Linked DNA regions of Homo sapiens. The protein of the gene in region 2 purifies or fractionates together with the protein of the main gene of each other region. This does not show direct contact. Each region holds a gene or a part of one and is shown on either strand. Other genes may lie near its edges.

Region 1 (3,653 bases), on a different chromosome or scaffold from region 2:
CTGTGTTGAGGGCAGGTAATTTGACTCTGGTTTCACAGATCTACAGATAAAGAGGAAGCATACTTGAAGAATTATAGTTAAAGATTGTATGGATACCTAAGGGGCCTCACCCACACCTGGATCAAATTTGGATGGCATCTAGATTTTGAGGTGATGACCGCCTATACAGTAAAAAAAATTATTTTTCATATTTTAATAAAAGTGATGTTTGACATCAATACAATTTAACTTGTTTTATAGCATCCAAACCTCTAAATAAAATATAAAATAATTTAAAACATTTTCTGTCTGTTAAAAGATTGAGCTACTAATGCAGAAGGGCAAGCATCATAGATTTCTAATATTAATATTATTTATTAATAAATCTCACTAATATAAAACTTGATAAACTTCTCTAAACCAAATTAATCAATTATCAACTGCCAAATTTTAATCTGTTTATAATATTTATTTGACAGCATCATAGCTATTATCAAGAGAACACATAAGCAATGTCAAAGCTGTCCTAAATATCTTGATTTGCAGATTATTTTTTCTGTTTGTAACAAAGATTCCAATTAAAGGAGGCATTTTAAATGAGATGTGAACTGGAAAATGAAATGTCTGACTCTCCTAAAATGATTATAATTTTTTTAACTTCATGCACTCCCAAAGAAAAGCAAATAATATCATTTCAATGTTCTATAATGCCTATCCTTCAGAATGACAGCACATCTTAATTTTCTATTCACTATCATATTGTGACATTTTATGTATGAAAAATAGTTAAAGCAGTATTTTTTAAAATGTCATACGGCTATAGAGAGCAATTTATTTCATGCCCATGTCCCTCCGGGCTATGAGCCTATTTAGTAAAGCTTATCAGTGAAGGACAATGACTGACATGTCTTCTGCATATGCACTCATGGGCCAATAAAAACAAAGAACACAAATATACCATTCAGAAATACACAGCACTGTTTAAAAATAGCAATGCCCATTTCTTCTCACAGAGAAGAGGGTCCTAGTCTACAGAGACAGCACAGAGCAGTGAAGGGGTATTATCTTGTACTGAGAGTCAGAGTATGTGGGCTCTCAGCTTAGCTTAAGCTACCTGGTAAGTGACTTATCCACCTTAGAATTCAGTTAACTAACTGTAAAATTCAGTGTCTGTATCCAACTTGATCAGTCAATGCATTCCTAAACTTCAGACATGCAGGCACCCCTCAGGCGAGTTCTTACTACACTCATGCAAAACCTGTACAGTTTTTTTGAATCCACCAAATAATCACTTAAATAAGTTTATTTTTCCTTAAAATAAACTTTAAACAGGAAACTTTTACACCACTACTTTATAAATGAAAAATCTGATTTACATAGCATTAATGATTGGTAATAGATTTAATTTTAAAATTAAATACAATAATACAACAAAACAATTATCAAATTCTAGCTATCAAGTTGTTGGCTGCCTAACGTCTATTCTCTTTGGAAAAACAGAGAAGCAACTCTCTAGGAGAGAGATTCTAGCATCAGACTGAGAATTTCTCCATTACTTGTCAGGAAAGCATTGAAAGGAAATAAGTTTTTCATTATATGATTCACTGTCATTTCAGGCAACATCTACATGCCACATAAAATCAACTCTAGTATCAACCAAAATCATCTTTCATACCAGCAGCAAATTTCTTGTACCCTGGAAATGCTGCATCAAATAGTACACCCGTTATTTCTGATTCTAAATTTTATCATGAATCCCCATATGACCCACCTAACCTACTTTCTTAAAACCATTAATACTGTCATGAGAGACACTAAAATAATTTTGAGGGCAATGATGCACTATGGAAAAAGTTACATTAGGTTTCTAAGCTTAGTTTCATCAGGCTAGATCTTGACACTGGCAAGTTAATTAACCTCTCTAAGCCTCAGATTGCTCATTCAGATTAAAGTGCTAGTGTCACAGTTAAATGACATAATGCATGTAATAAGCTTAGCATTGAACCCGAACATGGTAGGTACTCAATAAATGTTATGGATTAAAAATAATTTAATTTTCTCAAATAAGTTTTCAAAATTCTACTAAAATTCACTCCAAAGAACACTGGCTAAAAAGAAAATATAGTTTATCATTTTTCTTTTATAATAAAGCTATATGATATATAACTTTCACTTCAAAATAAAGCTATAAAACCCATAAACCATCTACTGGCAAAAGTAGCAAAACCACTTTGTCCTTAATGATAAAAGAAGAACCATTGGCTGTCAAAATGAAAAACAACAACTCTTAGTTGCTATCATGTAAAGCATTTTCAGGTTTTTTCCACCCCAAGAACGGCTCAAAAGGGTAGAAAAGACAGAGTGAGAATATCTTAATCAAAAAGTTTCAGCCAAGTAGGGCACATAGTGAAAGGAGCCACTTTTAGGCCAGCACTAATAACACTCTTACCTACTAGATGTAGTAAAGGCTGGGCAAAATAAAAAGAAGCCCAATGTTAATTCAACAACAGTAGTTCTGGTCACCTAATAAATGGTAGTAGTAATATTCTCCAGGACTCATACTCGTCACTTCAGATGCACTATTTCTAATCCATACAAGTTTGCAAGTTAGACATTGCTAACCCAAATTAAAACACGAAGAGGCTGAAGTTCAGAGAGGTTATTTGCCTGCTCAAGGTCACCCTGCTGGTAAATGCCTGAGTTGCACTGAAACCACATCTGATGCCCCAACCAGCTCTCCAGTCACCATTTCCTGCTGCTTTTCTTTTAGGACATAAAGATGTGAACAAAACTCTTCCTCAGTACTTTGAAAAGTCACCAGGTGATATGTGTCCCCTTTTCTTTCCCTGCCCTCTTCTGGTTTCTCTCCAATCCTTTGCTTTTTGATTCACACCATATTTAGTCAGTATTCATTTCCCCAACTCCAATTCACTTATTCCTTCAGCCACAGTAATGTGGTATTGTACCCCAGCCCTTTTGGAAACTGTCCTTCCTAAGAAAAGAAAGAATAAAAAGAAATCAAGGCAAGGCTTCCAATCTACTTGGAACTTAAACTAAAGGCTCCCAGATAACAAGTAATTCTCTTACACAGCAACCAATTATTTACCTGGACACCAGTACTCTCATTAGAGTTGGCATGTTACATATTAGAGGGATGACTAAGGTGGGCACAACGTGTGAAATCGATTATAGATTATGTGCAAATCATACATATTCAAAAGAATGCTTCACTGAATTAGAGCTTCAAAAGGTATTTGGAAGCTTTTATCTTTTATTCAGGGAAGGAATTTACACACAAATAAAAATTACTGAACTTAAGAGTATTTTTGTTCCATATTCTAAATGGTACAGGATCAAGCAAAAATGATAGTCTCTTCATTTAACTCTAAGTTGTACTTCAGTGAAGATGTCCATTTAATAGACAATGTCTAGTTCATGTTTTAAGTTCTAACGCTGCACTTGAAAATTAGTACACCTACCACACATTGCCCACACTTGTGGTCTAAATTGCTGAGGTCTATGAACCACTCTGTTGTATATGTTTCCTCAATCATCCAAAATGCAAGCTACACCCTTCTAAGCACTGCACATCAGCTAACACTATTGATTCTCAAGATAACCTTTTGTAAGCACTATTATCCTGATTATTACATATGAATAGATTGAGTCACAGA
Region 2 (3,653 bases):
TCAGGCTGGAGAGCAATGGAGCAATCTTGGCTCACTGCAACCTTCACCTCCCATGTTCAAACAATCCTGCCTCGGCCTCCCCAGTAGCTGGGACTACAGTTGTGCACAATTACGCCCAGCTAATTTTTCACCATGCTGGCCAGGCTGGTCTTGAACTTCTGACCTCTAGTGATCCACCCGCTTCAGCCTCCCAAAGTGCTGGGATTACAGGCGTGCGCCATTGCACCCAGCCTTAACCTCCATTTTGGAAGATGGATAAATTTGTTGTTTCACATGAATTCTTAATTTCCGTTTTCCCCACCTAGATAATCAAATTTGTTTTGTTTTTAAATCACTGGTTTCAGTATTATATTGGTGGTATATTTACAAAAATAATAAGCAGAATAAAACCACCCGATTTGAGAATAATATTATTATCCTCTGGCACAAAATGGGTCTTCAGTATTCACCTCTACACCAATCATCTGATCTTCATTTTTTGGCTTATAGAAAGCTACCTGATACAGGCACTCATGAGAGTTTCAAGGGCTGAATTCATAGGAATGAAAAAAGAAGAGGTGTGTCTATTAGCAGAAGGAAATTTTACTGTCGTTTCCAAGGTGCATTGAGACAAATATGCTGACTTAAATAAGAAGCCAAGATTCTTCCAGGTTTTCCTTGTTTTTGTTTTCTTAAAGGGATGTAAAGAGAGCTATGCTTCTTTCAGTTTTTCATTTCACATCACTTATTTTCTTTAGTAGCTGTTGAAGGAATATAGCTCAAAGAAAATGATGGCCCCTGAGACTCACTAATAACAAATCTGCCAAGGCTGAGTTGAATGCAGAGATAAAAGAGAGAACCAGAGACTTACTTGTTCATTGGATCGAGAGAGACAGCTCTTTATGACTTCTGTTTCCAGAAGTGTACGCTTATTAATATCCACATGTTCATAGTACTTAGAAAGTCGAGTCTGCCCTTGTTTATTCACCATGAGGAAAAATTTTATCATTTTTCTTTCCTGGCCAGTATTTTTCCAAATACAGTTCAAAAGTTATGACAAGGGATGGCTGTAACTGGAACCTTGAAGACAAAAACAAACAAAACCAGAAAGGCAAGATCAAATTTCTCAAATAATTATATTAAATGTTTTTATAGATAAACAGTAAATAAAGTAGTAGTAAATATCATCTGATAATATCAGTCTTTATTCCTATGAACTAATTGAGGTTTTAATAAATAAAAACCAGGCCGGGTGTGGTGGCTCATGCCTGTAATTCCAGCACTTTGGGAGGCCGAGGCAGGTGGATCACAAGGTCAGGAGATCGAGACCATCCTGGATAACATGGTGAAACCCTGTCTCTACTAAAAATACAAAAAATTAGCTGGGCGTGGTGGCGGGGGCCTGTAGTTCCAACTACTTGAAAGGCTGAGGCAGGGGAATGGTGTGAACCCCGGAGGCGGAGCTTGCAGTGAGCCGAGATTGCGCCACTGCACTCCAGCCTGGGCAACAGAGCAAAACCCTGTCTCAAAAAAATACATAAATAAATAAAATAAAATAAAAAAATAAAAACCAATGATAAATTTTCATCAGTTATTCTCCAAAATAATTCTGAGCAACTGCAGTACTTCTGTTTCTATTCATTCAATTTACTCATTCATTTTGCTGGGTAACAACGATGTGTCAAGCACCAGAAGAATGTGAAGATGAAATAGTAAGGACTTCTGATCTTCTGATTTTTACATCTAGCAAAGGTGCTAGGTAGGTAAACAACGGCAGTACAAGGTGATGAGTTATAACTGGGACAGGTCCGCTTCCATAGGTGTACAGAAGGGAGGGACAAGGAACATCACAGGAGAGTGAAGAACTGCTTCCCGGAGAAGGGGCACTGATGTGAGGTCGTGAAGAATGAGCTACAGGGGAAGACTGAGGCAGAGAAAACAGGTATGAAAGCTCTGGAAAGTTCACTGGGGCTGCAGTTCAGGGCATGGGAAGAATAGTTGCAGGAAATTAAGCTACTCACATATGATATAATTGGCTTTAGAAGTCATGCTAAGGAATTTGGGCTTTATTTTATGGGCAATGGAGACAAGATCTATAGTAAAGCTTTTCTTTCCTTAGTGGTGGAAATAATAGTAGTGATATCAATTTATCAAATTCCTCCAGGCCCTATAACAGGCTCTGTAAGGTGCTGTGCTGAGCAATTCTCACAATTGTTTGAGGTAGGTACTTCTGTTATCCTTACTTTATTTTTGAGATAGGGCCTCGCTCTGTCACCCAGGCTGGAGTGCAGTGGTGCAATCTCAGCTTACTGCAGCTTCTGCCTCTGGACTCAAGTGATCTCCCCACCTCAGCCTCCTGAATAGCTAGGATTATAGGCATGCACCATCACGTCCAGCTAATTTTTTAACTTTTTGTAGAGATGAGGTTTCACTATATTGCCAGCCGTTCTTGAACACTTAGGCTCAAGTGATCCTCCTGCTTTGGCCTCCCAAAGTGTTGGGATTACGGGCGTGAGCCACCTTATCAAGTCTGTTATCCTTACTTTAAGGTCAAGCAGGTTAAAGTTTAGAAATAAAGACACTTGGTCAGGCGCGGTGGCTCATGCCTGTAATCCCAGCATTTTGGGAGGCCAACACAGACGGATCATTTGAGGTCAGGAGTTCAAGACCAGCCTGGCCAATATGGTGAATCCTTGGCTCTAGTAAAAATACAAAAATTAACTAGGCATGGTGGTGCACACCTGTAATCCCAGCTACTCAGAAGGCTGAGGCAGGAGAATTGCTTGAATCCGGGAGGCGGAGGTTGCAGTGAGCTGAAATGGTGCCACTGTACTCCAGCTAAGGGAGGAGAATCTCTTGAGCCCGGGAGGTGGAGGTGATAGTGAGCTGAGATTGTGCCACTGCACTCCAGCCTGGGTGACAGAGCAAGACTCTTAAAAAAAAAGAAAAAGAAAAGAAGATACCCAAAGTCACTGCATGACTTTGTGTCAGAGGTGGGCTGCGGTTCAAAGGCCAAGCACATGCATGGATCCATGACACCCCTAACTCATCCTCCTCATTCAGGGGTTCATGCTTGTGCTGTTATGTCTAACTCAGTTGTATTGAATCTCATATTTGTTTCTCTTACACTCAACATAGGTTTTGGAAAAATCAATGCAAGTGAGCATAATATTCATCAATGGCCAGTCCTTCTTTCATCATGACCACCAGAGCTGGCTGGTCTGGCTCAGCTGACAATATTGTATTCACGTTTTGTGATATCTGTGAGAACCAGTGCAAAAAACTAAGATGAGTAATAGTTCTTAAATGAACTTTAACATTTGAAATTTTAGATTTATAGTAAAGTTGCAAAGATGGCCATTGTTAGCATCTCACATTACCATGGTACATTTGCCAAAACTAAGAAACCAATATTAGTACATTATTATTAACTCCAGACTTTATTTAGAGTTCATCGATTCTTCCACTAATGTCCTCTTTTTGTTCCTGAATCCCATCCAGGATACTATAGTGCATTTAATTGTCATGTTGCTTTAGTCTGTTCTGGTCTGGGACAGTTTCTCAGTCTTCCTCGTTTTTCATGACTTTAACAGTCCTGAGGATACTGGCCCAGGCTGGAGTACAGTGGTACAATCATGGCTCACTATAGCCTTGAACTCCTAGGCTCAAGTGAT
Region 3 (3,653 bases), on a different chromosome or scaffold from region 2:
GGAAAATGGGAAGCTCTGGTCATTCCAGCGGGGCACACGTTGAGGAGGTGGTTTTGGATCTTACTCGGGCCTCTCTGCACCATACACCTCTCCCAATGCACACCCACAGAGGCCCCTCAGGTTGGCAATGGCTAGTAGTGTGCACGGCCCCCAGAAGCAGAAGCTAGAGCAGTGCTAAGGAGAAAGGCTCACGGCATGGCCTTCTCACGTGAAGCTCTTGAGCCCTCCAAACCTCACTGGGAGTCCAAGTCCTTGGCATAACCCAGGAGAGCCCCTCACGGAGGGACAGATGCCCCAGCCTTCCTGGGCAGAGATGTGCTCCTGCTTGCAGGGTTCATCTTCACCCCAACCTGAACCGCTCAGACCCTAGAACCTTCTAGCACAGCTACATAATAAATACAAACACCAAACCACAATAAAGCAGCTCCTTACAACAAATCTACCCCCCAGTCTCTGGGTGAATGCCTCCTTAGATATGTAAATCAACACTCTTCCTACACGATGACACAAAATGCTGGCTGATGTCTCATTTCAGCTAATAGTATGCAAACTTCTGAAAACCACACTGTTTTTGAGAAATGGCCACCTACACGATACGCTGCCCTACTGGGCGACCCTGGCCTGCTGGATTTCCACTAAACCATTAGGGGATACCCATGGAACAGGGTGACAGAACTCTCTTTAGAGGGTTAACAATTCTGAAGCCTTTTGTACTCAAGTGACTTCAATCCAAGCTTTCCCTAGAGGTTAATGTATCATTTTTTTAAAACAACCCAAAAGGAGTTTGACTCACGGTCTCTCCACCCGTGCAGTATAGTAATCGAGCCTAAAGAAGCTTTCAACATCAAACCAAGGCAGAGAAATCCTCAAAGATGAGATGGTATCACTGACTTCAACATCATAAAACAATGGAAAAATAATAGGCTAGGCTAGTCTTTTCTTTTAAAGTAACAAAAACTTTCAAAGTCTCAAAACTATTAAAAATGAGTGGCCTCATTTTCCCCTTTCCTTCTCCCCTGTCCTCCAGGGTACACTCACCCAAGGACGAATGTAAGTTAACAACACTCAGCAGCCCAGGAGAATTCGCTCAGAATGTCAAGCATTTGAAACAAAAGGCTTTAATTGAAACAAGCAAAAAAGATCTCCCCCACTCCAAACCCTAAACAAACAAAACACATCTTTTCATCTTTTATGCAGTAAATATAAGGCTACCAATATAGACCACAATGTGCAAAATTTTGCTGTGCCTAAACCTGGGTAAAAATAATTTGCATGGGGTATTTAAAAACAAAAAAACAAACAAACAGAAAAACAAATGAGAACCATTCGCAAAGGTAGTCGAGAAGGGATTAAGTGCCAAGGCCTCCCTGCCCCATCGGATTTTCATGATTTCAATTCAATCAATCCCACCAGCCTCGCCGGGGTTCATTTTCCACTCTCCACCACTCAGCATGAATCTGAGCTCCTGGACTGTTTCCCTCTGTTTTTGCAAGCCTGCAACATTCCAAACACTTGGGTTCAGACGCCTTGAAAGAGTTTGCATTTCCCTTCAAAGACTTTATCCGTATTCTGGCATCCTCCACTCTAACCTAGGGAGGCACATTTTAATGCCCAACTCATGAGACTTTCAAGAGCAAAAGGGGTGTTACATATGTGTTTGCAAGGATCGATTAAGCCCAGTGAATGGTCACTCTGAAGCCTTTTAAATTTTTTTTCCAATTGGCACCCTGCCTTTTGCAGAGCTGAGGCACTTCTCTGTCCTGAGATTTGAGGCTTGTACATACCTAGGTTCTCTCCTCCCCACACATCCATCATCATGTCGTACTTCCCCAGTTCTTCAAAATAGAACTTATCCATCACAAACAGCCCACCAGCAATCATGGGGGTTCTAAAGAGGCAGAAAGAAGAGGGGGGAGGGAGGAGAGGGCAAAGTCAAGGTTAGATTGCCAGCACCCTTGCGCCAAGGCCAAGCCTTGATTCCCTAACAATAAGCTGATCTTCAGAACAGCCACACTGCCACTGTTTTCTGCTCAGTGCCCAGCATGCCACTCTCTCTGCTTCACCACTGCTGCCTTCAAATGCCTCCCCCACTGTCCCTGCCTGGATGTTCCCACAGTGCCAGGGGCTGGACTGAGCCTCCCCTATGTGGGAGCGACTGCTGGGGCTGGATCACTACTCACTGACATGCTGCCATAGGCAAAGAACTCGGCCTTTCTGTGTGTCAGTTTCCTTATAGGGTAGCTACGAGGATTGCAAAAAATCATGGGCATAAAGCCCTGAGCACGCTTAGGAAATGCTCCACAGCACCAGCTCTCATTATCACTATCATAGATGAGACTCCACCTCCTACAAGGGAACCCACCATGCTCCTCACTTCATCATCCCAGGAAGGGGTTGACAACAGATGTACACTGAGCTCCCTACTTTGTTCCCAGAAGCGATGCTGTGCGAATTCAGTGTAAAGTGCTGGGAAGGTCTATGGCACACTGCAGATGTTGGCTAAATGTCAGCAAATATATTTCAGCGCTAAGTACTCTGTGAATGCTATCTCACTTAACCGTGTGCCAACTTGGAAGAGGTGGCCCCCTTCTCTCCCCAGCTAGAGAAGGCATCCTGACTCTCAACCAGAAAGCCCACCGCCCGGCCTGGGAATCTTAAAAGCATGGGCTTCATGAGCATGGGCTCCTTCCTCTGCAGGAGAGCAAAGGCCTGCTGGGCAGTAGCAGCAGTAAGCCTCCTGCTGCCCACCAAGCCCCTTTTCCTGGGCCTGGGGTCAGCTCGGAGATCCTGCTCTGCTACAGAAACGCTCTACATTATCAACATACAGGAATGCACAGACCTAGCAGATAGGCCTTATAAACCTATGTGAGACTTCAACTGTGGAAAAGAAATCTCCAAGGATTTTATTCTATGACCTGGTGGAAGGTGCTCATCTTTGAGCTGAGACGAGGGGAAACCGGAGGGCAGAAGGTGAACAGCCCCCACTGGGTCTCCAGGCGGTGCGGGCCCAGCAAAGAAGCTGGAACCTGGGGTCTCATCTGGGAGGGGCACCCTGAAGGATGCTGGCACTTACTTTATAGGGGCGACTGGGTTCCCCTGCCGGGACCTTCTCTGCTCAGGCGTCATGTAATCCCACTTGAATACCAAGTTCCAATCAAAACCTGCCAGCCAGGAAAAGAAACAGGGTGTTGACAAGAGACTGGCCACTTCCTCCCGACACCCCCATTCCTCACAGCTTAAAAATATTCGATGTTTGGACAGAACTCAATGAAAACCAAAACAAAGCCAAAAAAGAAGGTGTGGAGGAGAGAGAAGGGGACTGGGGGCGTGGGTGTAGCTGAAGAGAGAGACCGGCAGTGAGGGTGAATGTTGAAATCTTCTCCCTGCCCCTCCCTAAAGAAAATGTGAGTCAGGCTTTTCTAATATTGAAATGCATAGGAAAAAATGAAATATGGGGAGAGAACTGGGGTCTGTGTGGTGATAACCAGGGCATGTCCAAGGGCTGTAAGGATGTGAGGAAAAAGAGCATCCAACATGAAAATCAAGCCGTGGTACCTCCAACACTGCCCCAGGGGAAGGCAATGCTGGGGAGGGAACGAGGCTTTGTCAGTTCCCTGGGCCAGCAAACTTCAGACTGTATTTGCAGCAAGAAT

What was found.
Region 1: the proteins of AP4S1 (region 2) and GOLIM4 purify together in Homo sapiens (affinity purification with mass spectrometry; one large-scale study listed by BioGRID and IntAct). This does not show direct contact.
Region 3: the proteins of AP4S1 (region 2) and GALNT2 purify together in Homo sapiens (affinity purification with mass spectrometry; one large-scale study listed by BioGRID and IntAct). This does not show direct contact.

The regions. Positions count from the first base shown.
Region 1 is NC_000003.12:168,085,883-168,089,535, forward strand, and holds part of GOLIM4 (Golgi integral membrane protein 4), read right to left. Parts: intron 1-3,653. UniProt on the Homo sapiens protein: Plays a role in endosome to Golgi protein trafficking; mediates protein transport along the late endosome-bypass pathway from the early endosome to the Golgi.
Region 2 is NC_000014.9:31,063,532-31,067,184, reverse strand, and holds part of AP4S1 (AP-4 complex subunit sigma-1), read right to left. Parts: intron 1,060-3,653; 5' UTR 989-1,059; coding exon 851-988; intron 1-850. UniProt on the Homo sapiens protein: Component of the adaptor protein complex 4 (AP-4). Adaptor protein complexes are vesicle coat components involved both in vesicle formation and cargo selection. They control the vesicular transport of proteins in different trafficking pathways.
Region 3 is NC_000001.11:230,248,692-230,252,344, reverse strand, and holds part of GALNT2 (polypeptide N-acetylgalactosaminyltransferase 2 precursor), read right to left. Parts: intron 3,162-3,653; coding exon 3,074-3,161; intron 1,889-3,073; coding exon 1,785-1,888; intron 1-1,784. UniProt on the Homo sapiens protein: Catalyzes the initial reaction in O-linked oligosaccharide biosynthesis, the transfer of an N-acetyl-D-galactosamine residue to a serine or threonine residue on the protein receptor.